Linked DNA regions of Homo sapiens. The protein of the gene in region 5 interacts with the protein of the main gene of each other region in a pairwise test. Each region holds a gene or a part of one and is shown on either strand. Other genes may lie near its edges. The genes, in order: PTN, MPP1, SERPINA1, POLA2, ATP5F1C, PAWR and NDUFB3.

Region 1 (4,528 bases), on a different chromosome or scaffold from region 5:
TCAAAGTGACAAAGCTAGTAATTTGAAGCATTATTTTCATTATAACTTCTATGTAGCTATAAGGCCTGTTTTTAAAAATGTTTCACATTTATTTTTTCATCATATTTTTGTAACTCTACTCAGGTAGATTGAGTGGGATTTTTAAAAAATTGATACAGAAATGCAGGCTTAGAGAAGTTAAGGGGGCCATATTCAATGACATACAGATATGAAAACAAAAGTCTTAAAATTCCTAGTTTGAGTTTATTCCTCTGTAATATAATGCCATCTCTTTCTTAGGCTAATAAATAGATTTTATCTCCCATTTGTCTCTCATGTCAAACCCCAAATCCAATGTATGTACAGTTAGAGGTCAAATAACCTACAGCAGCAGTTCCCTGTCTTCAATGTTTATCAGATTAACTAGCGTCATGTGTAGGTTCCAGCTGCCTGGAGCCCATCTTCAGCAGTTCTGATTTAAGAGGTGGAATCAAGGACCCTGGACATACGACAGGGCATGTGGATACGGATGAAACATTAGAAACAGTAGCCTTAATCGCTCAATATTTGAGCTCCAAGGTCCAAAATACTGAGGTATAAACCACTGCACTTCTTAGTAGCTCTGTGACCGTGAGCAAATATTGTGGTCTTTCTTACTTCAGTGTTTTCATCTCTAACATGGGAGCACATACCTACCTTCCAGGATTGACGTCTGAGTAGTAATTGAGAAAATCAATGTGAAGTACTGAACATAGAGTCTGATTGCTGGGAGTGTTTGAGCAGGATGGTGAAAATGATGATCATGGTGAAGCAGCACCAGATGCAAGTCCTCACTTCTTCCCCCTCCTGAATTGCTTTTCTTTCTCATGCCCACTTGGCATCTGCAACAAACATACAAGCAAAATCCTAGGTGGAATTCCATGCTTCTTGAAAGGCCTCGCCCCTCCACATGCTCATACCATTTTCTTCCTTCTCTCTAAATGCAGATTGAAAATCCTTTCTTCTGGAAGAAAACATACGGAGCATGTGATCATGCTCAAGGCCTGGGGGTTGGGCAGGCAAAGTCTCCGATGCAGACTCTTTGACCTTATCCCTTCCCATAAGGTATAGGAGAGCATTTTGCATACAGAAGACTCCCAATCCAAGAGACAGGCACTTTATTGCTGACCTTAGTGATGCTCATAACCACATTCTCTCTGACCCCTGCTGATAGAGGCTTCAGTCCAGGGAAGGAGTTAAGGTTTGGAGTCAGGAACCAGCATCTCACCACAGTCCGCCTGTTGTTTGGTATGGGCTGCTGGATGTGCCACTGAATCTTCTGAAATCTTAGGTTTTTTAGCTCTAAGTGGGAAATGATGATGATGTTACTTGTTTTGCCAACCTCATAGGTTGGTGGTAAATGTCAATGGTCACGACGCAACATCTGTAAGCTCTAAACTGTTATACTGAACATGAACTGAACTTAATAAAGTCAGTGGGGCAAGTTCTGCCTTTCTGGTTTCCCAATCCTGCTATTGTCATTGTCATTTTCTCAGGACACACAGAGATTGCCTAAGTTGCTTGAAGGTAAGTTTGACTCACAAAGTGAGGAGGAGGTAAGATGTGCGACAGGAATGAAGAAAAAGAAATGAGTCATACTAAAAAAAAAAAAAAAAAGCGAGAAGACATCTTAAATGAGGCTGAACTGAAACAGGCATGCTTTCTTTTACCTCAGATTATGTTATATTTCCTTCTGAAGTGTCTTAAAAGCTACATGTCACATTTTTTAATTGGTTATTCTCACTAAATATAAGCCTTAGTAATTGGCTAACAGCAGTTCATTTACATGATAGCTGGATAACTGTGCTTCTCAAACTTTCATGTTCATACCAGTCACCCAGGGTCTTTGCCAAAATTCAGTAGGTCTCCAATGAAATCTCAGAGTCTGCTTTTCTGCCAAGCTCCCAGGTGACTGCAGTACTGCTAGCTTGGCGACCTCTCTTTGAGTAGCAAGCCACAACAGTTTAATTCAACAAACTTGAGGGAACAGGAGACAAATCAGAATGCTCCAGTCATGATGTCCATAGCTTAATAAAAATGATGAGGATCATTGTCAATATGTTATATGCAAAAGCTTCTAAAACTTACATCTTTGTGACCAAATAATATTTACAATGTATGATTATTTATGAAAGAAAATTGCAGACACCACCTGATTTGCTATTGACTTCACTGAAGTTCCCTTAAGTGTAAAAAGCCCCTGGCCAGATGTTGCACTTGGGCCTCCTTACCAGTGCTTCTGCTGGGGTCTTTCTCGGAGAGGGTGTAAGTGATCCAAATGTTGCCTTCTTCATTTGCTTTAAAAGCTAATGAAAAGTGTTTAGAAAACTTCATTCTTTTTTTTTTATTATTATTATACTTTAAGTTTTAGGGTACATGTGCACAATGTGCAGGTTAGTTGCATATGTATACATGTGCCATGCTGGTGTGCTGCACCCATCAACTCGTCATTTAGCATTAGGTATATCTCCTAATGCCATCCCTCCCCCCTCCCCCCACCCCACAACAGTCCCCAGAGTGTGATGTTCCCCTTCCTGTGTCCATGTGTTCCCATTGTTCAATTCTCACCTATGAGTGAGAACATGTAGTGTTTGGTTTTTTGTCCTTGCGATAGTTTACTGAGAATGATGATTTCCAATTTCATCCATGTCCCTACAAAGGACATGAACTCATCATTTTTTATGGCTGCATAGTATTCCATGGTATATATTTGCCACATTTTCTTAATCCAGTCTATCATTGTTGGACATTTGGATTGGTTCCAAGTCTTTGCTATTGTGAATAGTGCCGCGATAAACATACATGTGCATGTGTCTTTATAGCAGCATGATTTATAGTCCTTTGGGTATATACCCAGTAATGGGATGGCTGGGTCAAATGGTATTTCTAGTTCTAGATCCCTGAGGAATCGCCACACTGACTTCCACAATGGTTGAACTAGTTTACAGTCCCATCAACAGTGTAAAAGTGTTCCTATTTCTCCACATCCTCTCCAGCACCTGTTGTTTCCTGACTTTTTAATGATTGCCATTCTAACTGGTGTGAGATGGTATCTCATTGTGGTTTTGATTTGCATTTCTCTGATGGCCAGTGATGGTGAGCATTTTTTCATGTGTTTTTTGGCTGCATAAATGTCTTCTTTTGAGAAGTGTCTGTTCATGTCCTTCGCCCACTTTTTGATGGGGTTGTTTGTTATTTTCTTGTAAATTTGTTTGAGTTCATTGTAGATTCTGGATATTAGCCCTTTGTCAGATGAGTAGGTTGTGAAAATTTTCTCCCATTTTGTGGGTTGCCTGTTCACTCTGATGGTAGTTTCTTTTGCTGTGCAGAAGCTCTTTAGTTTAATTAGATCCCATTTGTCAATTTTGTCTTTTGTTGCCATTGCTTTTGGTGTTTTAGACATGAAGTCCTTGCCCATGCCTATGTCCTGAATGGTATTGCCTAAGTTTTCTTCTAGGGTTTTTATGGTTTTAGGTCTAGCGTTTAAGTCTTTAATCCGTCTTGAATTAATTTTTGTATGAGGTGTAAGGAAGGGATCCAGTTTCAGCTTTCTACATATGGCTAGCCAGTTTTCCCAGCACCATTTATTAAATAGGGAATCCTTTCCCCATTGCTTGTTTTTCTCAGGTTTGTCAAAGATCAGATAGTTATAGATATGTGGTGTTATTTCTGAGGGCTCTGTTCTGTTCCGTTGATCTATATCTCTGTTTTGGTACCAGTACCATGCTGTTTTGGTTACTGTAGGCTTGTAGTATAGTTTGAAGTCAGGTAGCGTGATGCCTCCAGCTTTGTTCTTTTGGCTTAGAATTGACTTGGCGATGCAGGCTCTTTTTTGGTTCCATATGAACTTTAAAGTAGTTTTTTCCAATTCTGTGAAGAAAGTCATTCTTAATATGAAAAAGATATATGTAATATATTTACTTAGTGTTAAGAGTCTTCCCTTCTTTCACATTTTAACGTCTATAACTGCATTAGACTCTTTCCTTCCATACCATAATGGAACTAGACCAGGAATCATCCATCTTTGTGACTTCCTTGAAGACGGTGGGGCTGCCCAGAGAAACAGCCAGGGCTTTTTGCTTCAGAGTCCAGATTTAATTAATAAGGAACATATTGTGGTAACAGTCTTAGGTAACACAGAAAATCTTCACTCAGGCTAGAACAAATAGAAGCTATCTTAGTCTGTTTTGTGTTGCTATAAAGGAATACCTGAGGCTGGGTTCTGTGTAAAGAAAAAAGTTTATTTGGCTCATGATTCTGCTGGCTGAAAGTTTCCAGATTGGGCATCTAGTGAAGGCCTCAGATGGCATCCACTCATGGTGGAAGGTGAAAGGGAGCAGGCATCACACAGAAAGAGAGGAAGCAAGAAAGACAGGAAGGTACCAGACTCTTTTTAACAATCAGCTCCTGGGGGAACTAAGAGTGGGAACTCACTTACCCACCCTCCCAAAACCCACCAGGGAGGGCATTAATCTACTCATGAGGGAATCTACTCCCATGACCCAAACTC
Region 2 (4,528 bases), on a different chromosome or scaffold from region 5:
CCCGTTTACTCTTACTTAAACAGGGTCAAGGTTGAGGCAGGACAAGATCCACACAAGTACTTGAACCTGAGTCCCAATCACTTTGGAAAATTCTTTTACTAATTTATTTTATTAAAGTAACACAAGCACATAATACATAATTTAAAAGGTATAACTTGATACACAGTGAAAACAATTTCCTTCTCACCCCATCTTATAGCCACCCAGTTCCTCTCCCTAGAAGCAACCACTGTTTCTTATGTCTCCTTCCAGACATAGTTTATGTATTTTCATTTATTTTATTTTTTGAGACAGGGTCTCACTCTGTCACCCAGGCTAGAGTGCAGTGGTGTAATCACAACTCACTGCAGCCTTGACCTCCCGGGCTCAAGCAATCCTTCTGCCTCAGCTTCCCGAGTAGCTAGGATTACAGGTGCACGCCACCATGCCCGGCTAATTTTTTTATTTTTTGTAGAGACGAGGTTTTACTATGTTGCCTAGGCTGGTCTCGAACCCCTGACCTCAGGTGATCCTCCCACCTCAGCCTCCCAAAGTGCTGGGATTACAGGTGTGAGCCACTGAACCTGGCCAGTTTATGGATTTTTAAGCAAATATGAATATAATCATTCTTTCACTGTTTATGATGAAGCTAGTATACCCTTCATCACATTATTATTATTTTTTGCTTAACAATAAATCTTCAAGATCACCCTCAGAACCTCCTTTTCCTACCTACATGGTGTATCCCGGGTATCATAAGTCAATTTTTTAAATATAAGCCTATCTTAGACAATTTTGTTATAACAGCAATGCCATATGACTTGGTGTCATGTGAGTTTTTTGAAGTTCTAGTTGCTAGAGAAGGCAGTTTCTCTTTCTCAGTACTTCCCTCATTTGAGGTCACCTGATAGCGAATACTACTTCAAACCTCACCATGTTTTTTGTTTGTTTGTTTGTTTGTTTGTTTTTCTGAGACAGGGTCTTCCTCTGTTGCCCAGGTTGGAGTGTAGTGGTGTGATCATGGCTCACTGCTGCCTCCAACTCCTGAGCTCAAGCAATCCCCCTGCCTCAGCCTCCTGAGTAGCTGGGACCACAGGCTTGCACCACCACACTCAGCTAATTTTAAAATTTCTTACAGAGGCAGGAGTTTCACCATGTTGCCCAGGCTGGTCTCAAACTCCTGGGCTTAAGCGATCTCCCCACCTTGGCCTCCCAAAGTGCTGGGATTACAGGTGTTAGCCACTGCACCTGGCCCAAACCTCACCATCTTATCAAAGTTTCTACTTAGAAATCAGAGTCCCTTAGAAATGATGTAAGCCTCTACTCCAGACTTCCTTCTCTCTCATCTTCTAGTCCTTTTCTAGGCCTTGGGCAGGCCAGTGGACACTGCTCAGGCATACCATCTATTCCCATCTAGGGACCCTTCTCCTTCCCCACACAGTGAATGGCACACTCCTCACAGTTCTGCCTATTGGGAAGATCTTCCCTCCCTACTGTCTTTGAGGGTCACCTCTGGGTGTGACTGGAATGCAGCTATCCCCTATTTTCAGCAGACCCTTCCATAAGCCCACTTCAGGCCTATTCCTCCTCCTCGTCCTCCTCCTCCTCCTCCAGGTGGCTATATCATTTTTGATTTAATATTTTATCTGGGGTGGGCAGGGAGCATTTTCAGAGGTTTCCATAGTTTTTCCCCATTGTGATTGCTCTTACCCAGATCAGTAAGATGAGGAAAGAACAGCAAAGCAAACTGAGAAGGAGCATTTTAAGGAGAAGAGAGTGATCACCTGTGAGACTGATCCACAGGTGATCTACCATGGAGTGGTGTAGCAGTAGCCATTCATTGCCATTGATGTAGGGTATCCACTTGGATATGCTTCAGTTTATCCATTCTACTGTTGATGGACTTTTGGGCTATTTTCAGGTTTGGGCTTTTAAGAGTAGTGTTGTTCTGGAAAGGGCACACCACTACTTTCCTGGAATTCCTGCCAAAAATGCAAAATCCCAGTCTAATCTTGAAAAAACATCAGATGATAACCCCAAACTGAGAGACATCTACAAAATAACAGGTGTGTACTCTTCAAGAATGTCAAGGTCATGAAAGAAGAAAAAGAAAGGCTGAGGAAATTTTCCAAATTAAGGAAGAGTAAGGAAATGTGAAATGCATGATTGGATTCTGGTCTTAGATTGGATTCTGGGACCAAAAAGTCCTAGGTTGGATTCTGGACTGGGGAAGAAATATATAGCTATAAAGGACATTCTTGAAAGGGTTGGCAGATGACAATATTGTGTCAATGTTAAATTTTCAGTTTTGAAAATGCTCGTTCCTAACATATAGAGACATCTATGGGTAAAGGAGAATGAAGTCTTCAGATTACTCTCAAATGGTTCAAAAATTAAATTTTATAATATTTTTTAAAGAGTACTGGCTGCTCTTGGAATGGCGCCAAAAAGATGAAAGAATTTTATAGTGACACCCATATAGCCACACCTCCTAGATTCTACAGTTAACATGTTGCTGTGTTTGCTTTATCACATTTCTATCCAAAAACTGCCCATCTATCCACCTTCTTTTTCCTGGTATTTCAAAATAAGTTTCAGATATCAGAGCACTTTACCCCTGAAAGCTTCAGCATGCATATCATTGGCTCAAGTTCAGGATTTGTTTATGGTTCTTTTCATCCTGTTATTAAATTGTAAGAGTTCTTTATATGTTCTGGATACAAATCCTTTGTCAGATGTAAATATTGCAAATGTTTATTCTCAGGCTGTGTCATACCTGTCTAGTTTCTTATGTAAGATGTTTGAATTTGATGAAGTCAGTTGTTTGCTTGTATGATGATTGCTCCGTGTCTCGTCTACTAAATCTATGCTTATCTCAGTGGAGTTTTTTGATGAATAGACTTCTTACTTTTAAAGTGTTTGTCTTTTTAGTTTTCATTTTATACTCGGGACCTTTTATGACATTTATCGTGCAGACCATTTTTCCCCGCTGCACTGCAGTGTCACCTGACTATAAATGTGTGGCTCTGTTTTTGCACTCTCTGTTCCATTACATGGGTCGTTTGTCTTTCTTCTTACCACAGTGCCTTAAATTACTTTAGATTTATAATAAAGAGGCCTTGCTGCCTGGTAGAGTAACTCATTTAGCTTTGCTGTCTTTGAGATCAGGGGAAGAAGTCACAGTGGCAATGTATTATTGTTATCACCGCGGTTCGGGGCCCAGTCCTAAGTGCCTAATTCTACAGGTAGAAGTTCTTTGTAGCCTAAGGGGTGATTCATGAGAAACTGATGCTAACCTGAATTACCTTTATTGCTGTGTGACCGAGAGCATCAGGTTGTTCAAGGAAATACAAAGGAGAAGAGAACATGCCAGAAACCCTTGGAGCCTGAGGTGCCGCAGGATTCAGAATCTTTCTAATTTTGTTATATATTATGTAATACCCCAAGCAGGATCCAGGAGAGCACCATGTAAATCAAGGCACATTAATATTTCTGCAGCAACCTAGATAAACATGTCTATTTTATTTATTTTTAGAGACAGGGTCTCACTCTGTTGCCCTGGGACTGTAGCTGGGACTACAGGTGCACACCACCACACTTGGCTGACATGTCTATTAAGTTGGAGAAATAAAGCTTACAAACAGCTTCATGTCAATTCAAATAAGAATGAGGCCAAACTTATGAAATAAGTTTTCAGAGCCTCTTGAATGTTAGAATTGCAGATTGTGGACTGGCTGTGGGCCTTGCTCCTGATTTCATACGTTGCTTTGTTGTTTTGGCTTGGCAGGCTGTATCGCATCCATTGAATACTGTGACCGAGGACATGTACACCAACGGGTCTCCTGCCCCAGGTAGCCCTGCCCAGGTCAAGGGACAGGAGGTGCGGAAAGTGCGACTCATACAGTTTGAGAAGGTCACAGAAGAGCCCATGGTAATCCCCCGTCATATTGTCGCCCACCAGTTACTCTCTGCCCCATGAGTCACTGGGCCAGAAGAGTCAATGCAAGAGGCTGCTCATGGAGTTAGGGAATTGGCCAACCCCAAAATTGTCTTTTCATTCTTATCTCAAATTCCTCCTCAAAGCAGGCTTCATGCCTGTTCTAGTTGAGGACTATCCTGGGTATAAATGGAAAATATTTTCCTGAGAAATTACCGTAAGTTCTTTCTAAAATAACCTCAGAAAGAGCTTAAAATAAAGCTTATTGTGCCGTCGCCTTTATTTCAGGGAATCACGCTGAAGCTGAATGAAAAACAGTCCTGTACGGTGGCCAGAATTCTTCATGGTGGCATGATCCATAGACAAGGTACTCTGTGGGAGCTCTGGGTGGGGTTTGATTCAGGGATTAATAATTTACTCCCTGTTCAGTGGTGTGGGGCATGAAGCTTATAATCCTCCAAACTGGTAGCATTTTTGTGAGTGTGCCAAGAGACTTTTTGTGGCTTAATAACTGGCTCTGTAGAATCAGTACATGATAAGATCTCTATGTGAATTGCCCAGTGCCACCATCTCCCTATCTGAGCCTTCTTTCACACCTATTTATACCAATAT
Region 3 (3,500 bases), on a different chromosome or scaffold from region 5:
TTTGTCCATGCTAAGATGAGAAATTAGCACCTCAAAGAGGTAGAATGCATTGTTTTTGTCAAAAGCTAATTGTGTTAGAGGCAGGATTTGAACCCAGGTCTTTCAGATTGCAAAACTGATACTGATTCTGGGACACTAGAGTCGTGTAAAGTATGTTCCATGAAACTATCCCTTTATGCAGTGTATTACAATTTGTTCTATAGTTCTAAGCATTATATATTCTACATATACAGTATACACAAGGACATTAAAGGCTCTGAAAAGTTCTGCAGAGCTGTCAGTAGTTTTGACAGTTTAATCTATTATTTCCTCAAATTACTCAATGATGGAAAACATTTTAGTGTTTGTGTGTAGAAAACTGAAGAATCCACGCTGAAAAGCATTGCTATGGCCCATAATGCATTGCCAAGGAGAGTTCAAGAACTGATGGTTTGAGAATATTTTTGCTTGTTTCTATGGGAACAGCTCAGGCTGGTTGAGCAACCTTACCTTTAAAGAAGATGTAATTCACCAGAGCAAAAACTGTGTCTCTGTCAAGCTCCTTGACCAAATCCACAATTTTCCCTTGAGTACCCTTCTCCACGTAATCGTTGATCTGTTTCTTGGCCTCTTCGGTGTCCCCGAAGTTGACAGTGAAGGCTTCTGAGTGGTACAACTTTTTAACATCCTCCAAAAACTTATCCACTAGCTTCAGGCCCTCGCTGAGGAACAGGCCATTGCCGGTGGTCAGCTGGAGCTGGCTGTCTGGCTGGTTGAGGGTACGGAGGAGTTCCTGGAAGCCTTCATGGATCTGAGCCTCCGGAATCTCCGTGAGGTTGAAATTCAGGCCCTCCAGGATTTCATCGTGAGTGTCAGCCTTGGTCCCCAGGGAGAGCATTGCAAAGGCTGTAGCGATGCTCACTGGGGAGAAGAAGATATTGGTGCTGTTGGACTGGTGTGCCAGCTGGCGGTATAGGCTGAAGGCGAACTCAGCCAGGTTGGGGGTGATCTTGTTGAAGGTTGGGTGATCCTGATCATGGTGGGATGTATCTGTCTTCTGGGCAGCATCTCCCTGGGGATCCTCAGCCAGGGAGACAGGGACCAGGCAGCACAGGCCTGCCAGCAGGAGGATGCCCCACGAGACAGAAGACGGCATTGTCCTGCAAGACAGAGATGGGGGGGCCAGGCCCCGAGTCAAGGCACATGATGACTCCCAGTGATCAGGGATTGACACCACGTGGAAGTGCCTAGGGATTATTAAACCAGCCTGTGCCAAGTACTTGCCGACATCAGTAACACTGAAAGAATCAGAAGAATAGCAAAATGTACGTAGTGCTTACCATATGCCAAGCACTGTTCTCCGTGCTCACATGTGTTAATTCATTGCTTTCTTGTAACAATCCCGTGAGGTGCTAATGCTAATATCCTTCTTTTACAGATGAAGAAACCAAAGCCAGAGAGATTAGGTCAGCTATTCAATGTCACTGAGGAAGTAGCAGAACCAGAATCCTACATCTAGGTCCTGCACCCAGGCTCTGGACAGCAACACTTACATCTGCAATGACCCTAAGATGCAAATGGTACAGCCATTGTTTTACAAAAGAAGAAAATGAGGCACAAGAAGAGGAATGGGCCTGCCCACGATTATCCAGGAATCGGGCCAGATCAGAATCAAGAATCATGTCAAGCTGGAAGCCCTTGGAGGGCTTCTATCTAATCCCACTATTTAGTGGCCAGGGAAACTGCTGCACAGAAGGGAAATGCATCTTGCACAATGGCAACAGCTAGAGAGCATGGAGGGGCTGTGATTAAACCTCCTGGGAGCTGTTCCCACCCAACACTCACAAGGATCCTCAGCCCTTAGGGTTTTTTTCCCAAGAGACGGGGCTGTCCCCACAATGCTCTGTGGTCCCAGACACAAGAATAGGCTGATGCTCCTGCAGTCAGCTTACCTGCCGTCTGGGTCACTAATGGTGTCCCAGTTCTGGGCTCTTGCTGTCAGGGGCTTTAGAGACGCTCATCTCTCCTTGAAAGCAGGGGTTTGTGCTGCTTTAAAGTAGATGGAGGAGGTGGGAAGTGAAAAGACACCTCTTTTAACTTCAGATAGACCTGGGATCTAATCTGACTCTGTCACTTTCCAGGTGTATGAGCCAGGACAAGTCATTCATCTCCCTGGTCCTCATTTTGCCTCATACATAAAGTGATGTTTATGTATGAGAATTTAGTGAAATAAGTCTCAACACCAAACCTTACATCAAAAGGATCTGAGAGGGCAACTCTTTTGAGGGAGGGGTTGGCAGGTGTTGCAAATTCAAAGGCTTCAGGTGATAGGCCAGTGAGGAATACATGTTTCATACCCGGGGCTGAGACAATAGGGAGTGGTGGGGCCTGTGGCTGAACCAGCGAGAGCAGGCTCTGCCGAGCAATGGTCAAAGTCAACGTCATCCACAGCAACACAGAACCTGCCCTGCCCCACAGTGATCCTTCTACTCCAGATATGCCCAGGCTTCGGACCACCAGCCTGCAGCCCCCTAGGTAGAACCTGCCGTCTTCACAGATGGGAAAACTGAGGTCCTAGCTGAGGAGAATATGCCCGGCAGCCACATTGTTAACTACTAGTCACAAAACCAAAACCATCATCTTAACAAAATACAAAGAAAAAGGTGTCCTTGAATTTGGGAAATGAAAAACTGGAGAAAAAAAGCTGGAAATAACAAATATTGAGATTCTTCAACCCCCTTGGACTTTTAAAAGTTTCCTTCCAATAAAGCAACAAATGAAGTGCAAAGCTGGTTTCTCTCCACCACCTTTCTCCTGGCCCTCGTGCCTCTAAGTAATCCAAATGGAACAGACCACACATTACATAATACATGTTTGTATTTTTCTTCAGCTAGCTAGTGTTGTTAGAACTAAAGACGGTGCTAAAATTAGTGCTGTATATTTCCATCTCCCTTTAATTTCTCTTTCACTTCCCAACTGAACTTTGTGCAGTCCTTCATGGCTTATGGAAATTCCCCCATCATTACAGGGCTCAGTGGTCAGGAGGGAGTTGGGCCTCTGCAGGGTGGGGACACTAAATATGCTGAGTGGCCTCAGGGCCAGAGGTTGTGGCTTCTAGCCCTGGCAGGGCCATCACTATCCACTTGGCCTTTAGCAAGAATCCTCTGGTCCTGGGGCCTCACTCTCCCCAGTTGTGCAAAGTGGGGCTGGGAGAAGACTTCACTGGGGCCCTCTGTACACTAACATAGGTTTTTGGGTTTTTTTTGAGACAGAGTCTCGCTTTATCTGCCAGGGTGGAGTGCAGTGGCGTGATCTCGGCTCACTGAAACCTCCACCTCCCGGGTTCAAGAAATTCTTCTGTCTCAGCTTCCCAAATAGCTGGGATTACAGGCGTGTGCCACCACGCCTGGCTAATTTTTGTATTTTTAGTAGAGCTGAGGTTTCACCGTGTTGGCCAGGCAGGTCTTGAACTCCTGACCTCTTGATCCGCCTGCCTTGGCCTCCCAAAGTGCTGGGGTTAC
Region 4 (4,528 bases), on a different chromosome or scaffold from region 5:
CATGCCCACTGCACTCCAGTGAGACTGTCTCAAAAAAAAAGAAAAAAAAAAGCCCACGAATTTATTATATTACAGTTCCAGGGGTCAAAAATCCTAAACTGAAGGTGTGGGCAGGGCTGAGTTCCTCCTGTCTGGAGGTTCTAGAGAAGAATCCATTTCCTTGCCTTTTCCAGCTTTCAGAGGCCACCTGCATTCCCTGGTTCATGGCCCCACCTGCAGCGGCAAAGCCAGAAGCCTAAGATTTCTCTATTTTGAAATAAAATTTTTCTTTAGGCTTCCTCAAATCACAGCAGCCTAACATTTCTAAGCTCTGACTCTGATTCTCTTGCCATTCCTCTTATAAGGACCCTTGTGATTATAGTGGACCCACCTGGATAATCCAGGCTAATCCCCCATCTCAACAGCCTTAACTTAATCACACGGGCAAAGTCTCCTTTACCACAAATGGTAAAATATTCACAGGTTCCAGGGATTCCTGGGGCTGTGATTCAGTCTATCATGGTAATAATACCATGAACTGACAGAGCATTCAAGGTGAAGAGCAGGTTTCATGTGGTGGTGGGGTAGGGGACAAAGTTAAGTTTGGCTCTGAGAAGCCTACAGGAGATGTGAGCCCCAGTGTAAGCAGTGAGTCTCTGGAGGGCGAGGGCCATGTCTTATTCTGTATCTCCATGAGTGCCTCATTTAATTCCTTGTACAAAAGTTCATTAACAACCTGTTAAACTGTTTCCAAAGGCTTCTCTGGTACACAGCTCAGGCTCCTGGTATCTCAGCCAGGTTGATTTCATTACCTGAAGTTGACCTAATACCAGCATGCCACCCTTGCCCCCTATAAATTTGTATTTTCTTTTTTTTCTTTTTCTTTTTTTTTTTTTTTTGAGATAGGATCTCACTCTCACTCCTAGGCTGGAGTGCAGTAGTGGTATGATCATGGCTCATGGCAGCCTTGAACTCCTGGACTCAGGAGAGTGATCCTCCCACCTTAGCCTTCCAGGTTGCTGGGACTATAGGCACATGCCACCATGCCCACACCCAGCTAATTTTTTTTTTTGAGACAGAGTCTAGCTCTGTCGCCAGGCTGGAGTTCATTGGCGATCTCGGCTCACTGCAACTTCTACCTCCCAGGTTCAAGCGATTCTCCTGCCTCAGCCTCCTGAGTAACTGGGATTATAGGCACACGCTGCCAAGCCAAGCTAATTTTTGTATTTTTTAGTGGAGATGGGGTTTCAGCTTGTTGGCCAGAATGGTCTCTATCTCCTGACCGTGTGATCCGCCCACCTCGGCCTCCCAAAGTGCTGGGATTACAGGGGTGAACCACTGCGCCTGGCCTAATTTTTGTACTTTTTGTAGAGATGAGGTTTCACCATGTTGCCCAGGCTGCTCTCAAACTCCTGTGGTCAAGCAATCCTCCTGCGCCAGCATGAGCCACCACGCCCGGCCAAACTTGTGTTTTCTGATAAAATGTGCAATATCACAAGGTCCTAAATTTCACTCCTGATTCTAGGTCATCTCCAAGAATGGCTCTGGCCACTGTTACATGCATGGGGTGTTGACAACATGCTAGTATCAGTGATCTGGTTGCTAATCCTTAACAGTGCTCCACTGTGCTTACAAAAATGCCTTGAGGGTTGGGTGTGGTGACTCATGCCTGTAATCCCAGCATTTTGGGAGGCCGAGGCGGGCAGATCACCTGAGGTTGGGAGTTTGAGACCAGCCTGACCAACATGGAGAAACCCCATCTCTACTAAAAATACAAAAATTAGCCAGGCATTACAGGTGCATGCCTGTAATCCCAGCTACTTGGGAGGCTAAGGCAGGAGAATCGCTTGAACCCGGGAGGTGGAGGTTGCGGTGAGCCGAGATGGCGCCTTGCACTACAACCTGGGCAACGAGTGAAACTCTGTCTAAAAAAAAAAAAAAGAAAAAAAAAACAATGCCTTGAAATACAGAAATACATACATATATTTTTTTGAGACAGGGTCTCACTCTGACACCCAGGCTGGAGTGCAATGGCACAATCATGGCTCACTGCAGCCTTGACTTCCTGGGCTCAAGCAATCCTCCTACTTCAGCCTCGCAAGTAGTGGGGACTATACAGGTGTGCACAACCACACCAAGCTGATTTTTTTTGTTTTTATTTTTTGTAGAGATGCAGACCCACTATGTGCCGGGAGGCTAAACTTAAACTGGGCTCAAGCAATTCTCTCACCTTGGCCTCCCAAAGTGCTGGGTTACAGAAGTCAGCCATCACACCTGGCCACCTTGAAATAAATAAATTCTATCTATCTATCTATCTATCTATCTATCTATCTATCTATCTATCTAGTGTCTTACTCTTTCACCCATGCTGAAGTGCAGTGGCATGATCACGGCTTACTGTAGCCTTGACTTCCCAGGCTCAAGTGATCCCCGCACCTCAGCCTCCTGAGCAGCTGGGACCACAGGCACATGCCACCATGCCGAGCTAATTTTTTTTTTTTTTTTGTAGAGACAGGTTTTCGCCATATTGCCCAGGCTGGTCTCAAACTCCTGGGCTCAAGTGATCTTCCCACCTCAGCCCTGTGAAGTGCTGAAATTATGTTGAAATATTTAGAAGCAAAGTTTGTCAAACTTTCTTTTTGCCTTTCCACAACTAGATTAGTTACCACATAACACTAGGGTTTTAAAGAAATTCTTTTTGGCCGGGCATGGTGGCTCATGCCTGCAATCCCAGCACTTTGAGAGGCCAAGGCAGGCGGATCACAAGGTCAGGAGTTCAAGACCAGCCTGACCAACATGGTGAAACCCCATCACTATGGGGTTTTGTAAAAATACAAAAATTAGCCGGGTGTGGTGTACGCCTGTAATCCCAGCTACTTAGGAGGCTGAGGCAGGAGAATCACCTGAACCCGGGAGGCGGAGCTTGCAGTGAGCCAAGATCTTGCCACTGCACTCCAGCCTGGGGGGCAGAGCGAGACTCCATCTCAAAAAAAAAAAGGAAGTTATTTTTAAGTTTTCACTTTAGAACAAATTTAGAATTGTAGAGAAGTTATGAAGATAGTACAGAGTTCCTGTGTGTCTTTCACCAGTGGCCCCTAATCTTAACATGTTAGGTAACCATGAACATTTGTCAAAATTAAGGCATTAATGCTGGTATATCGCTGTTAACTAAATTCCTGGATTCTCGAGGTTGAGTGTTAGAGCCAGAAAAATAAAAAAGTAAATTCCTGGCTTTATTCAGATGTTGCTAGTTGTTCCACTGATGTTCCCGTTCTCTTCAAGGATCCAATCCAGGATGCCACATTATACTTTCAAAAAATTAATTAATTTTAATTTTTTTTAAGAGTCAGAGTCTCGCTCTGTCACACAGGCTGGAGTAAAATGGTGTTACCATAGCTCACTGCAACCTTGAACTCCTGGGCTTAGGCAATCCTCCTGTCTCAGCCTCTGATTAGCTAGGACTACAGGCATGCACCACAAGCCCAGCTAATATTTTTTTTAATTTTTAGTAGAGACAGGGTCTCCCTATGTTGCCCAGGCTAGTTTCCAACTCCTGGCCTCAGGTGATCCTCCCACCTTGGCCTCCCAAAGTGTTGGGAATACAGGTGTGAGCCACCGCATCTGCCCATGCTGCATGTAAATAAATTCTTTTTGAAATCGTACATCTTTTCCTTTCCAAGGCAACCTTCAAAAATACCTGTTAAACATTAGTCTTTAAACAACATGCTTCATGTAGGCAGAACTCAGGCGACAGCACGACCAACGCTCACTGGGCTCAGACCAGGGGTCTTGTGACAAAAAACCTACGAACTCATGATGGTGGCGCCCTCACTGCTTGGTCACATTGCTCTTCAGCAGCTTCTGCAGCTTTCTTGGGCTTGGGAAACTGCACTCCTGGACTCATGTCTACCATCCTCATTGTTGGCAAAACAATATTTGAACCGAAACTCACCTGCATCCTCTTCAGTGGGCTGATAAAATGGAAGTGGCACACCCTAAAAACAGGGGAAAAGCTCAAGTAAGGTCTTGCGCCAGGCATCACCTTGGTAAGGAAAGGGGAGGGCACCAGGTTGGGGGTGGTGCAGGTGTGTGATGGGAGGACAGTGGGGAGGAGCGAGAGGGCAGGGGAAGGATGTGCCTCTGTCTTGCTCCCTGGATCTGATGGGACCTGCCATTTTTCTATACTGCTCAGAGGGCAAAGAAACCCAGGTAATGGGAGGTCACTACTCAATTGTCATAAAATACCCAGCAACAAGTGGGAGCAAAACAGGTGCCTAAAGTATCAGTGTACTTCTAGGCAAGGATGGGAGAGAATGGTTTCTTGCTACTTTTCCTGGCATTCTACGAAAATCTCTGGAGGATTGTTGCCTAGAGCAGGGATAGGTAACCTTTCGGCCTCTGGGCCAAATTTGGCTGCAGCCCACTATTTAAATAAAGTTTTATGGGAACACAGCCACAGTCATCTGTTTAAGAGTCCTCTATGGCTGCTTTTGTAGACAAAGGCAGAATTGAGTCATTGTGACAGAGACCATATAGCTACAAAGTCTAA
Region 5 (4,528 bases):
TTACAGAGCATGCAAACCCATTCACAAGCAATCCAACCTTGGCACTGCATAGCTAAGTTTTTGTATAAGGATTTAGACTACCTTCCTAGGAAGCAAAAACTTAATACTCAATTTCCAATTATGTGGATTCCTTTTTCTAAATTCTTGGTTTTGTGCAGTGGCACGATCATAGCTCACCGCAGCCTAAAACTCCTGGGCTCAAGCAATCCTCCTGCCTCAATTTCCTGAGTAGCTAGGACAACAGGCACATGCCACCAGGCCTGGCTAATTTTTTCATTTTTGTAGAGATGGGGTCTTGCTATGTTGCTCAGGCTTGTCTTGAACTCCTGGGCTCAAGCAATCCACTCGCTTCGGTCTCCCAAAATGCTGGGATTACAAGCATGAGCCAATGCACCCAGCTGTTTCTGTTACTTTTAAATAGGTTTCCTGCATTTCTTTTTTTTTTTTTTTTTTTTTTTGAGAAGGAGTCTTGCTCTTTTGCCCAGGCTGGAGTGCAGTGGCGCAATCTCGGCTCACTGCAAGCTCCGCCTCCCAGGTTCATGCCATTCTCCTGCCTCAGCCTCCATAGTAGCTGGGACTACAGGCGCCCACCACCACGCCCAGCTAATTTTTTGTATTTTTAGTAGAGACGGGGTTTCACCGAGTTAGCCAGGATGGTCTCAATCTCCTGACCTTGTGATCCGCCCACCTCTGCCTCCCAAAGTGCTGAGATTACAGGCGTCAGCCCCTGCGCCCGGCCAGGTTTCCTGCATTTCTAATGAAGAAATAGGCTGGTCCTCAATTTTGCAGAAGTTGTATCATCATAGGTCATACCTAACATTCGTTTGTCAAGAGCAAAAAAACCCCCTTGGGTTCTCTGGATCTCACACAGCCCACAAACCTTCAGAATGTGGTTCCTTCCCGCAGGCTTTGTCACACTTAAGATCCAAGAACAAATCAGCCTGGCTTTAACATGGGGTAGATGGCAAGAAGGATAATGGCTAATAGAAGGTTTTAGTCCTTGTATTAGTCCCCATGTTACAGATGACAAAGCTGAGTAACAGAGAGAGTATCCTAACCAAGTTCATCAAGCTAGACACCATGAGACAGTATTCTGTGATGCTGATAGAACATTGGTGACCAGGCTGTGAATGGGTTAGTCCTAACACAGCTGTGCTTAGAAAGTAAAATAAGAGAAGAATGCTTAGGATAGCGAGGCTGATGGATCCAACTAACAACTTACACAAAGGTCTCTGTTGGCTCAAAAAGTTCTAGTTGTGTCTCTCTGGCATTCTGCCCAGTTTCTGCCCTTGAAAAGTAACACTTAAGGAACACTTTAAATAGTGATGAACTTTTCCCTGACTCTTAAAACCATGGACCCACATTTTCATACACCCAATAAAATGTTATTTGTCCCTCTTCTGAACTTCCAGTTCTGAATACATATGGCATTTCATTCATTCATTCAACATTCACGAAGGAGGTATGTACCAGGCAATGGGGACACAAAAGTGAATAAGATATGGTCCCATCCTAGCCTCGAGGAGCACACAGACAAATAAAAAGCCAATTCCTCATACAAGGCTGTAAGAGCTAAGCTAAATGGAAGACAGGATGCTGCAGAAGGCTGCCTCACTCAGACTGAAGGAAGGAGTGTTTTCTGGAAGAAAGGATTCCCCCAGCTGAGTAAGGAAGGATACACAGGAGGCAGTCAGATGAAGAATCAAGGGAGCAAGGGAAGAAATAGTGGCTTTTCAGGCTGCAGCACATGCCACTCCCTGGCCGCGAGAAAGAGTGACGAATCTGTAGATCTGGAAGTAGATCAAGGTGGCTGAGGTTCAAGGACGTGAGAAATGGTAATGGTAAGAGACTGGACTGGGAAGAGTGCTGGTGACCAGAAAATATAGGATCACATACATCGAGTGTTTCTGCAGAATGAGTGTATAACAGAGAATGGATTTTGTTATTTTCCTCATAACACTGTCACAAGAATAGGCAAATTTTTTCGGTGAAGGGCCACACAGCAAGTATTCTGCACTCTGTGGGTCACACGCTATCACTCTCCTTTTTCTTATATCCCTTTAAAAATGCAGAACCCATTCTTAGCTCCAGGCCACAGTTTAGCAACCTCTGTTCTGCTGTGACTTCTTATTTAGTGTCTGCCTTTACTGTGAAGACTGAGCTCTCTGAAGGCAAATACTGTTACCACTGTATCCTCAGTGTCTAGCACAGGGCCTGACACTTAAGGGGCACTCAAATAATTACCTTTTTGAACCCAGGAGAGAAATGACAAGGATCTGCATTAAGTGGGCATAAAGAAGGGGGAAGATTCAAGAGATAGTTAGAAGGTAAAACTTAAAGAGCATGGTAACTGATTAGCAGGAGGTAAGAAGGAACGAGTCAAAAAGAACTTACTACACGTTTTATCTAATCACAATTACTTGTATGTTTCTTATCCTATTAGAATATAAGTGCCTTAAAAGAGAGAATCACATCCTTAACACTGTGTCTAGCACTGTACTGTGCACATAGTGGGTATTCAACTTAATAACTTTTTGAATAAAATTCCCATTATCTTAACCTTTTTTTCATAAACATTAAAGTTTTTCAACAACTAAGAAATTTTCTTGAGGAAAGCAGTATATAGTTGGCCCTCAGTATCCATGGATTCAACCAACAGCCGATGTAAAATATTTGGAAAAAAGACAAAAATAATGATAAAATAATAAAAACAAAAACCAATACAACAACAATTTACATAGCATTATAACTAGAGATGATTAAAAGTATACGAGAGGATGTGCATTTTTTATATGTAGTACTGTGCTATTTTATTTCAGGGACTTGAGGATCTTCAGATTTTGGTATCCTGGGGGAGGTGAGAGTGAGTACTGGAACCAATCCACTGCAGATACTGAGGGATGGCTATACTATCTTTTGGTACTGATATAGAAAACATAATGATTAAAAAACATAATGATTAAAAAATTCCTGGACCTTCCCAACATGCAATGGTTTATAGATTTATGTAAAACCAAATCTGAAACTAGCCCTGTAACTCAGAAAGCTTGGCTTACAATTGTTTAAATTCCAAAAAAAGATTTCATAAATGATACTGAATTATCCACATCCCATTCCTAATCCTTTAGAAAACCGAAAACTAAGCCCGAGTGTTTCCAGCTGAAACAATAAAAATAAAGCAAAGAGGTCCCATTTTTACCACATCTTTATAGCCTAAGAGTTAGGATGCAAGTTTCAGCAATGAGTTTCAACTTCAAAAGAAAAAAACGAAAAACTTTTAAGCATCCAAACAAGCAGACACAGCAAGAGGAAAAAAAATTCTCTGAAGGCGACAATCTACAATTACTCACAGAGCTGCAGCACCAGAGATAATTTCAATCAACTCTTTTGTGATGACAGCTTGGCGGGTACGGTTGAATGTCAATGTCAATTTGTCAATCATCTCAGCTACAAACAAAACAAAAACACTACATAAAAAATCTGAAACTAGAGTAGAATAACTTGTTAACTAACTTCTGTTGCTTAATTTAAAAGTAAGAAATTTTTGGATACCAAAATTGGCCTCTCAAATAATGTTATGAAGATATTTTTACATCTTCCATAGGATACCTTTTCACAGTACTTGCAAATCAACTACCTATCAAGATATACTTTCTTACAGGTACAGGAATATCATGTTAATGTTGTTGATGCTACTCTCGGCCACGGACTCCTCTCAGCTGAGATTCACTGTGTGCTCACAAGCACTCCTGCTGGCACTGTCCATACTGTGTACTTACAAGCATTCTTGCTGGCATTGTCCATGGCTGTCATCCTGGCACTCTGCTCACTAGTGGTGGACTCCTTCAGAGAGTAGTAGATGATGTTGGCCAGATTGTATTCTTGGTAATTTTGCAGCACGTCAGCATCAATATCGTCATAGATACTCATGCTGTCTGTTAAAACAAGTGATGAGTTTCTTTCAAGTTATATGGAAGGAATAGTAATTCATCAAAAACAGCTTTTCAGTGTAAAACTCCTTTATAATTACAGAGCAGAAATTAATGCTAGATAAGGTAAATGAATCTGTTCTAATAATGTCATCTATTTCCACACTACAGATGATAGCATATTTTTAGCAAAATATAATGTGTAAATAAACCATTTGATATTCTACTCCACATGTGTAACTTTAGAAAAATTAGGTCAACATTTGAAATAACTGCACTATATCTCGTGGTTATGAAGCCCTCTGGACAGCATTAGCATGTGCCTGTTACAAAGCCAGCAAGCACTCAATGCTTTTTCCAGTAAAAAAGAATAATAATGAATTGAAACGAATTTAGTGTAATACAGGTTGAGCATCCCTAATCCCAAAGTCCAAAATCTGAAGTGCTCCAAAATCTGAAACATTTTGAGCACTGACGTGATGCCACAAGTGGAAAATTCCACACCTGACCTTGTGTGATGGGGTGCATTTGAAACTTTGTTTCATGCAGAAAATTCTTTAAAATATTGCATAAAATTGCCTTCAGGCTATGTGTATAGG
Region 6 (4,528 bases), on a different chromosome or scaffold from region 5:
TTCTCATAATTTGAATACCATATCACTTTACTGAAAGGAAAGCTAAAATTTAGGGACCAGAGGTTCTAAGAACATAATGAAAAATAAAGATGAAAATATAAAAGCACTTAAGAGCACACCGTGTGAATACTAAAAAACCACTGAACTGTACACTTTAAAAGGGTAAATTTTATTGTATGTGAATTATATCTCAATTTTTAAAAAAGGAAAAAAAGCACAGAGAAAATGTCAAACCCTAATATTTGCCAATAATTTTATACTTATAAAACATTATATCAACCTTGCTATTAAATGGCATAATTATTTTCTGGCACACATCATAGGTGCTAAAAAAAAAATGCAGAAATAATAAATAGCATAGATAGGCTTGGTACGGTAGCTCCCACCTGTAATCCAAGCACTTTGGGAGGCTGAGGCGGGTAGATCACTTGAGGCTGGAAGTTTGAGAGCAGCCTGGCCAACATGGCGAAACACCATCTCTACTAAAAATACAAAAATTAGCCAGGCATGGTGGTGCACACCTGCAGTCCCAGCTACTTGGGAGACTGACGCAGGAGAATTGCTTGAACCCGGGAGGTGGAGGCTGCAGTGAGCTGAGATCACACCACATGCCACTGTACTCCAGCCTGGGCAACAGAGCAAGACTCCACCTCAAAAAAAAAAGAAAGAAAGAAAAAAACAAAGAAAATAGTATAAACAGGCCACTAGCTTGATAATGATTTTAAATAAGAATTTTAATGCCAGTGTTTATATATTCATTTGTTCTCAAAATTTTCCATTAAAGTCTCACTTCATCTATGTTCTATAAATAGGGCTATTTTTAAATTCCATAGTCATATACTAACAATTTAACACTAAAATATTCTTTGTATTTCTTAAACTAGGTATACAGTATGTAATACACTGAAGTGTAGTAAGATGGTTTATTACGCACAAGACTGTGAGTGCAAACTATCTCTAATCTACTTCTCACTACATGTATGACCTGAAGCAAGTAACATACCTTCTCTTCCCCATTTTCCCATAGGGCTGTGGTGAGAATTAAATGCACTAATGTATGTCAAGTGCTTAGAACAGTGCCTGGCACTTAATAAGCACACCATAAATGTCATCTACTTTAATTATGTAATTATTATTTTTATGAGAAATGACATCCCAGCTCAGACAACTCAGTACAAATCCTGATAATATTAAAATTTCAATTTACTTTACCAGTGAGCTCAAACATTTAGGAAAGCTGGGCTAATAGCCCAGGTTTTACACTAAACAGTCTCAGTGTTTACACTATATCTACCCCATTCACGAATCAAATTTTCTCCAACTCTGAGTCATTATTAGTTTCTCTCCTGACTCATCACACAGAAAGGTAGACAGTCTGGAGCATAATGGGAATAACAAAAGGCATTTCTTAATCCACCTGGATTTATAAAGTTTACTAAGTGGAACTTGTCCTATATATAATGTTCAATAAACATACTAAATAATTATGACCTAACCTGTGTTCACTTAAAAGTGCTTTCTATATGTTAAATGCTCCTTTATCTTCCCTTTCACCAACACGAGTTCAAACTATGGAGTAGGTGTCATGACCCCATCTTGATAGAAAAACAATATATCACTTAGGTAAAATCAAAGATTCACATTTTCTGACCACTAGCCAAAAATAAATTTACGTTTTGCCGAGAGCCTGGTGTTCAAAATTTTGCCACTCTATAGGTTAGAGGGTCAGAGGCAATCTCTGAGTCCACAAATTTGACCTGAAATTCTATTCAATTCCATACCTTTACTGTTTTCCTCATTCAGATGTTTAAATTACTTAAGATAATCTTTAATAAAAAGTTATGTAAAAATCTAGGGAAATATGCTGAATAATGAAAAGTAGGTTAATTTTTAAAAACTCCCCTTTCCCTAGATATATACATACACACAAAATACACAAAAATGTTTAAAATATTGCTCTATCAGTTACTTTCTATGTGATCTTGAATCATTTAAGCTCTAAGTCTTCATTTTCTCCTCTGGAAATAGTGATAAACAGTGTAACTACCACATGAGATTGCTGTGAACTTCAGTACATAAAGCACTTTAGCCAACCACTAAAGCTAAACCACTTTAGCCAACCACTATTTTAAAACAGAAGTTTTAAATACTGTATATGTTAACTTTTATACTTAAACCAAAACTTCAGTGCCACCTCTACCTATTCAAAGATTACATTTTCTATGGCACCCATCTCCATTAACCCATTCACACAACCCTACTCAATGGCAGTAACTTCACAAACCCCCTGGAAACAAGTATGTAACTGTCTAGGAAGCTTTCTTCAACTATCACTCCTCCTCCCTGGGTTAGGTACCCTGCTCAGGCACTAAGCTATACTTACTACTCTACTTTTCACATTTCCTTATATTACCTGAGAGCACCTCGTGGGCAAGGCTTATGTCCTATTCATTTCTATACCCAGACTGCAGTCCAACAGTTGTTATCACTGACTCACATTTGAATCAAATGGGGAACTTATAAAAATATTAATGCCTGGGATCCATCCCAGACCCATTCAATATTACAGGGTGGGGTGAAGGGACAAAGAGGGCACGGAATTGAATTAGCATGAGCAAACATTTTTTTAAAGATCCTAACATGCTATCAATGTGCTGCTCAAGTTAAGAACCACTGCATGTCGGTACTTAATATACTATACAAACAATTATGTATACATGTACATATGTGAGAACATATGTAAAAATATACAAGTACTGAAAAGTTTAAGACTCAGGTCAAGATTCTCATCCTCAATAGCTTCTCCCAGCCCAATCATCTCCCCCTTTTAAACACACACTATTTCCAATAAATAGTTACATGCTTCATTAAGATGGCTTTTAAACTGTTAACTCAGTACTTAAATTTTTTCATGTAATTATGCCTTATCCTTCTTCCTAGATTATAGCCTTGCTCCTTGAGAATATACACTGCCGTGTTCTTATTTTCTCCACTGCTTAAGGATAGTGTCTTTAACAGGTATGTAATACACATTTGACTGATCTGATAAACACACACAAAAATTACTGGCAAGAAGTATGCCACGTCCAAATTACCCAGTTCAGGTGAATTACTACCAAAAAATAGAAAATGTAAAAATTTAGAAAAAAGGATATTTTTCTTAAAACTCTTAGTAAATTTTATCTCATTAAAGAAGCTCTGGATAGATCGACTTCAGCCATCACATGCAGTAACCACCCAGTTTCCTACCTCCCAAATAGCTAGTTTCGGTTTTTGACCTGGTTCCTTGCCTATAACTATCTTCTAGTCAATTCTGGTATCTTTAGCTGCTGTCAGATACCTTTATAACAGTATTATATATACACTCTATAACTAGTAAAGTGAGGTAATGAAAGTCACAATAAATGTATCACACAGATGTTTCATAAGTACTTCCTTGAAGGAACTTAATGTTTATCCACCATTAAAACCAGATCTCTACATATGAACTACATGTTAATCTACTAATACAGACTTGGTTGGGAATCATGTCTGAAAATAAGAGTCTTACTCGACATTAGATAAAATAAAGTCTACTTTTGAATATAAAGAGATTGGTCATTTTCATCTTTTTACTTATTTTCATACCCGAAAAATTTGCAAAATATGTATGACTTTTTAAAACAGGGGTGCTAAATTAAATATTACACAAGAAACTCCACAGCAACTGGTATTCTCAATGTTGAAACTACCAGGAGAAATGGCACAATTCTAAAAAAGCAACAATATAAACACATGAAAATGGCTCAGCTTTAAAGTTTTGCATCATATATTTTACCACTATTAAAATAATCTGAAATACATAAGTTGTTTTGAAAAATAAGAAAATATGAGGAGGAGGCGCTCAAGAAGTATGTCTGTTAATTAGATACTGTAGTGAAGCATTACTGTTTTGTTGGGTCCTGCAGCTTGAAACGGACAGAGACATAGTTACCACTAAAAGAAAGCAGTCCTCAATTCCCTATTCAATAAAAAGGTTCAAACTCTACAGACAAAAAAAAAGGTACCCTTGGTTTGTTTGTTTTCAGGGAAGATTAAATTTAGGAGTTGCCAACACCCAAACGAAAAACATTCCAGAGTATTAGACTCCATTGTAGTGGGAAGTCATCTACATTCTCAGCACTATGTTCTCTTACTCAAAGCAGGGGTATTAACAAAAGATGTTTCTTAGGATCTCACAAGATACACTCTACTTACTTCCCCCAGTAAACATTACCCTTGTTTAAAAAAAAAAAAAGTACTTGAAAAATAATTTTAGCACATGCAGCCAGAAAAAAAGTGAAGTTTAACATCTGCCAAGATATTTCCCAAAATAAGACCGCTGTCAGATGAACAATGAGGAAAAGATTGAAAATGACAAATTCTTTTATTTGGATCATCAGCTACTTTTAAAAATCAAGTTGAGGAATGTAGCTTTTCCAAAGCCTTGTCTTCAATTTCCCCTTAATCTTCATATTTTTAACTAAAAAAAAAAAAAAAAAAAACACCT
Region 7 (4,528 bases), on a different chromosome or scaffold from region 5:
CACTGCAACCTCCACCTCCTGGGTTCAAGTGATTCTCATTCCTCAGCCTCCTGAGTAGCTGGGACTACAGGTGTGTGCTACCACACCTGGCTAATTTTTGTATTTTTAGTAGAGACAGGGTTTCCCCATGTTGGCCAGGCTGGTCTCAACTCCTGGCCTCAAGTGATCCACCTGCCTTGGCCTCCCAAATTGCTGGGATTACAGGCGTGTGCCACTGCGCCCAGCCATGTTCAGCCTTTCTAGGTCTTGCCAGTTTTTCAGAATGGTTGTGCTTAGTTACATTCTCACCACCTAAGTATGAAAGTAGAAGGCACATCACAATGTGTTTTCCTCAGCTCTCACGATCTTGCAAGGTAGGTTTTATCTTCATGTTATATGAAGAAACTGAAGTTCAGGGAAATTAAGTGATTTGCCTTGGATTTTACTTTTACTAGTGCAAAGTAGGAGAATTTCAAGCTCTTACTTTACAGGTCACGATATCATTGTTTGATTTATGGCTATTTGGAAATAGAAATAAGTTTAAAAAGAAAAATGGGCCAGGTGCCATGGCTCACGCCTGTAGTCCCAATATTTTAGGAGGCCAAGGAGGGAGGAATGCTTGAGGCCAGGAGTTCAACAGCAGCCTGGGCAACATAGGAAGATCCTGTCTGAAAAAAAAAAAAAAAAGAAAAAGAAAAAAGAAAATGAAAGGTTTCCTAGAGAAAGTGTTTTCAACTTTCTGCTCTTTTTGAAAAGTCATTTATATGTTATATTTAGCCGGGCACCGTGGCTCATGCCTGTAATCCCAGCACTTTGGGAGACCCAGGTGGGCGGATCACAAGGTCAGGAGATCGAGACCATCCTAGCTAACACGGTGAAACCCCATCTCTACTACAAAATGCAAAAAATTAGCCAGGCGTGGTGGGGGGTTCCTGTAGTCCCAGCTACTCGGGAGGCTGAGGCAGGAGAATTGCTTGAACCTGGGAGTCACAGGTTGCAGTGAGCCAAGATTGCGCCACTGTACTACAGCCTGGGCGACAGAGCGAGACTCTGTCTCAAAAAAAAAAAAAAAAAAAAAAGGTATATTTAGTAAATTCCTATGAAAAGGATACTTCTGAAATAATTAGGTAGAAGAGAAAATACATTGAATGTATTTAAATAAACTTGTATAGGAGAAATGAGGGTATGTACGCTTTCATGTTTTCTTTCAAAGATTTATCTTTCAAATTACTTGTTTAAGCACAGTAGTATTGTAATTTTGAAATAGTCTTTATACCATGGTAATGTTTCAAGTTTTATTTTCAAAAACTATTCTATCAAAATTCTTGACCCTTTGTTTTATACTCTCTTCCAAATACACTGATACTCAGGTTGATATTCTAGAATTGACATTTGCCAAAATAAGGGTTTGTCTTGTTTTAAGTGTTTTTAAAATGAAGCCTTATTTTAAAAAAGATTTTTTGAAAACATGGTATGCAGAAGCCAAGACATTATCATTCTAAATAAACACTTGTAATGGTCTTCGTTTGTAATAAATGTATTCAGTCTCAAAAGTCAGTCTGAAGTCTGACACCATAATTTTTTTCCTTCATTTTATTGAATCTACCAAGTAATAATGGGTTAAATGTTTCATTCAGAGTTGTGTTGTAATTTTAACTTGTGTTTGAGAGTATCGGTTTTCATTTTCATTTTCATTTAAATGTGAAAATCCTCCTGGGTGTGGCTGTAATCCCACTGTAATCCCAGCATTTTGGGAGGCCTATGCCAGAGGATCAAGGATCACTTGAGGCCAGGAGTTTGAGACCAGCCTGCACAACATAGGGAGGGTCCATCGCTATAAAACATTTAAAAACTAGCCAGGCGTTGTGCACACTCCAGTCCTAGCTACTCAGGAGGCTGAGGCAGGACAATCACTTGAGCCCAGGAGTTTGAGGCTGCAGTGAGCTATGATCCAGAGCAAGACCCTCTATCTTTAAATATATATATATATATATATATATATATAATTAAATGTGAAAATCATCAACATAATGTTTTTTAGTATCTTAACATGTTTACAAATAATAAGTGTTGGTTTTTCACAGTTAGTATGTACAATTTTTTTCTCATATCTTGGAACTACTTATTTTTTGAGAGAGTCTCACTCTGTCGCCCAGGCTGGAGTGCAGTGGCACCATCTTGGCTCACTGTAACCTCTGCCTTCTGGGTTCAAGCGATTCTCATCCCTCAGCCTCCCAATAATGTGTCTTTAATATACACTTTTTAATAATTACCTCTCTCTTCTGAGATGCAATGTAAGAATTCCTACCAGGCCAGGCACAGTGGCTCACGCCTGTAATCCCAGCACTTTGGGAGGCGGAGGCGGGCAGATCACCTGAGGTCAGGAGTTCGAGACCAGCCTGACCAACATGGGGAAACTCCATCTCTACTAAAAATGCAAAATTAGCCGGGCATGGTGGCGCATGCCTGTAATCCCAGCCACTCAGGAGGCTGAGGCAGGAGAATCGCTTGAACCCAGGAGGCGGAGGTTGCAGTGAGCCGAGATTGCACACCATTGCACTCCAGCCTGGGCAAAAAGCAAAACTCCATCTCAAAAACAAAAGAAAAGAAAAGAAATCCTACCTTATTGGGCCTGTTCATAGTTATAAATATGGACATAATGGTAATATTTACTTGATTTTACTTCCGGAAAAGCAGTGATTATAGAATTGCTACTGCTTGCCAAGTAATTAGAAAAATAAAAATGTAAAAAAAAATAAAAGGATTGCTACTGCCAACCTTACACAAATTATAGTATAGTGTTACTAAGCCATACCCCTTAATTTGAATTAGCAATTTAAATGAGGACTGAGCTGGTTTATTTTTATATTATATATTAAAATAACACTAGTAAAACCAAAGTATTTATATAACCATTGAGGACATGTTTTAATTAAGGAAGCAAATTTATTGATTAAAAAGGAGTCCTAAGGTATCTGTTGGCCCAGTTCAGGGATCGGCAAACTGCAGCCTGTGGACCAAATCCAGCCCAGTGCCTGTTTTTGTAAGGTCCATGAGCTAAGAATGGTTTTTACAAATGAACATTTGTAATGACTTTGATGCTAAGGATCACTAACTTTGAGCTCCAGTTAAGTAGAATGTTACCCCCAAAAGGGGAGTTCCATTTTTTTCGTCAGTAGACCTGTATTACAAAAAAATTTGTAGTCAGTTACTTACTACATTTTGAATTTTATCAATAAGGTATTTGCGGTAGTGTGTTTTCTCTTCCTATAAATGTACCTACATAATTGCCTCAATTTTACCTCTTTTACCCACAAAGCCTAAAATATTTACGATCTGCCTCTTTAAAGAAACCTTTCATGTAATCATATGTATTTAAAAGCATTGCATTTTAAAAGAATCATCTAAAGAAAATTTTTAAAACAGGATGTATAACCTTTTTATTATACATATTTATGCATTATGAAAGGATTCAAAAGGAAAACAATATTGCTTAGAAGTTAGGAGCAGGGGGCCGGGTGCGGTGGCTCACACTTGTAATCCCAGCACTTTGGGAGGCTGAGGTGGGTGGATCACGAGGTCAGGAGATTCAGACCATCCTGGCTAACATGGTGAAACCCCGTCTCCACTAAAATTACAAAAAATTAGCCGGGCGTGGTGGCGGGCACCTGTAGTCCCAGCTACTCGCCAGGCTGAGGCAGGAGAATGGCGTGAACCCGGGAGGCGGAGCTTGCAGTGAGCCAAGATTGCACCACTGCACTCCAGCCTGAGCGACAGAGCGAGACGCCGTCTCAAAAAATAAGAAGAAGAAGAAGTTAGGAGCAGGGTTCTAAAACCAAACTGCAAGGTTCTAATCCCAGCTGTACCATTACTATTTTTGTTACCTTTGGAAAGTTACTTAATTGCTTGGAGTCTCATTGTCCTCATCTGTAAAATGGGGATACTCATTATTTAAGTTCAAAGAGTTGTTTTAGAGGTAATGGAGTTAATACACATAAAGCATTTTAGCATATGTTTACTATTTATAAAGAGTTGTTTTAGAGGTATTGGAGTTAATACACATAAAGCATTTTAGCAAATGTTTACTATTATTATAATGAAGAAAAGAACCAGATAGTAAATGGTTATCTCTGAGTGATGAGATTGCCAATTATTTTTCTTTTTTATATTTTGTGTATGTGTATTTCCTAACTGTGAACATGGTTGTAGAATAAGACACTTTTATAAAATCCTTTAACTGGAATTTTCAAGTATTTATATTGGCTTTTTTTTTTAATATTAAATGCTTTACCTTAAAACATAAACAATAAATTTGGGTATTTGATATCTACAATTTGCATATTTCTCACTTGTGTTAATCTTTTCCTTACAGACATGGCCCATGAACATGGACATGAGCATGGACATCATAAAATGGAACTTCCAGATTATAGACAATGGAAGATAGAAGGGACACCATTAGAAACTATCCAGAAGAAGCTGGCTGCAAAAGGGCTAAGGGATCCATGGGGCCGGTAAGATGAATTAAGTAATTTAGATAGAATGTATC

Evidence for each region.
Region 1: the proteins of ATP5F1C (region 5) and PTN interact in a two-hybrid assay, tested with the Homo sapiens proteins (one large-scale study listed by BioGRID and IntAct).
Region 2: the proteins of ATP5F1C (region 5) and MPP1 interact in a two-hybrid assay, tested with the Homo sapiens proteins (one large-scale study listed by BioGRID and IntAct).
Region 3: the proteins of ATP5F1C (region 5) and SERPINA1 interact in a two-hybrid assay, tested with the Homo sapiens proteins (one large-scale study listed by BioGRID and IntAct).
Region 4: the proteins of ATP5F1C (region 5) and POLA2 interact in a two-hybrid assay, tested with the Homo sapiens proteins (one large-scale study listed by BioGRID and IntAct).
Region 6: the proteins of ATP5F1C (region 5) and PAWR interact in a two-hybrid assay, tested with the Homo sapiens proteins (one large-scale study listed by IntAct).
Region 7: the proteins of ATP5F1C (region 5) and NDUFB3 interact in a two-hybrid assay, tested with the Homo sapiens proteins (one large-scale study listed by BioGRID and IntAct).

What each region holds. Positions count from the first base shown.
Region 1 is NC_000007.14:137,333,036-137,337,563, reverse strand, and holds part of PTN (pleiotrophin isoform 1 precursor), read left to right. Parts: intron 1-4,528.
Region 2 is NC_000023.11:154,791,524-154,796,051, reverse strand, and holds part of MPP1 (55 kDa erythrocyte membrane protein), read left to right. Parts: intron 1-3,766; coding exon 3,767-3,910; intron 3,911-4,204; coding exon 4,205-4,283; intron 4,284-4,528. UniProt on the Homo sapiens protein: Essential regulator of neutrophil polarity. Regulates neutrophil polarization by regulating AKT1 phosphorylation through a mechanism that is independent of PIK3CG activity.
Region 3 is NC_000014.9:94,382,103-94,385,602, forward strand, and holds part of SERPINA1 (alpha-1-antitrypsin precursor), read right to left. Parts: intron 1,278-3,500; exon of another isoform or gene 1,140-1,277; 5' UTR 1,136-1,139; coding exon 490-1,135; intron 1-489.
Region 4 is NC_000011.10:65,281,925-65,286,452, reverse strand, and holds part of POLA2 (DNA polymerase alpha subunit B), read right to left. Parts: intron 3,975-4,528; coding exon 3,932-3,974; intron 1-3,931. UniProt on the Homo sapiens protein: Accessory subunit of the DNA polymerase alpha complex (also known as the alpha DNA polymerase-primase complex) which plays an essential role in the initiation of DNA synthesis.
Region 5 is NC_000010.11:7,801,677-7,806,204, reverse strand, and holds part of ATP5F1C (ATP synthase F(1) complex subunit gamma, mitochondrial isoform L (liver) precursor), read right to left. Parts: intron 3,936-4,528; coding exon 3,780-3,935; intron 3,448-3,779; coding exon 3,351-3,447; intron 1-3,350.
Region 6 is NC_000012.12:79,683,965-79,688,492, forward strand, and holds part of PAWR (PRKC apoptosis WT1 regulator protein), read right to left. Parts: intron 1-4,528. UniProt on the Homo sapiens protein: Pro-apoptotic protein capable of selectively inducing apoptosis in cancer cells, sensitizing the cells to diverse apoptotic stimuli and causing regression of tumors in animal models.
Region 7 is NC_000002.12:201,074,530-201,079,057, forward strand, and holds part of NDUFB3 (NADH dehydrogenase [ubiquinone] 1 beta subcomplex subunit 3), read left to right. Parts: intron 1-4,351; 5' UTR 4,352-4,353; coding exon 4,354-4,493; intron 4,494-4,528. UniProt on the Homo sapiens protein: Accessory subunit of the mitochondrial membrane respiratory chain NADH dehydrogenase (Complex I), that is believed not to be involved in catalysis. Complex I functions in the transfer of electrons from NADH to the respiratory chain.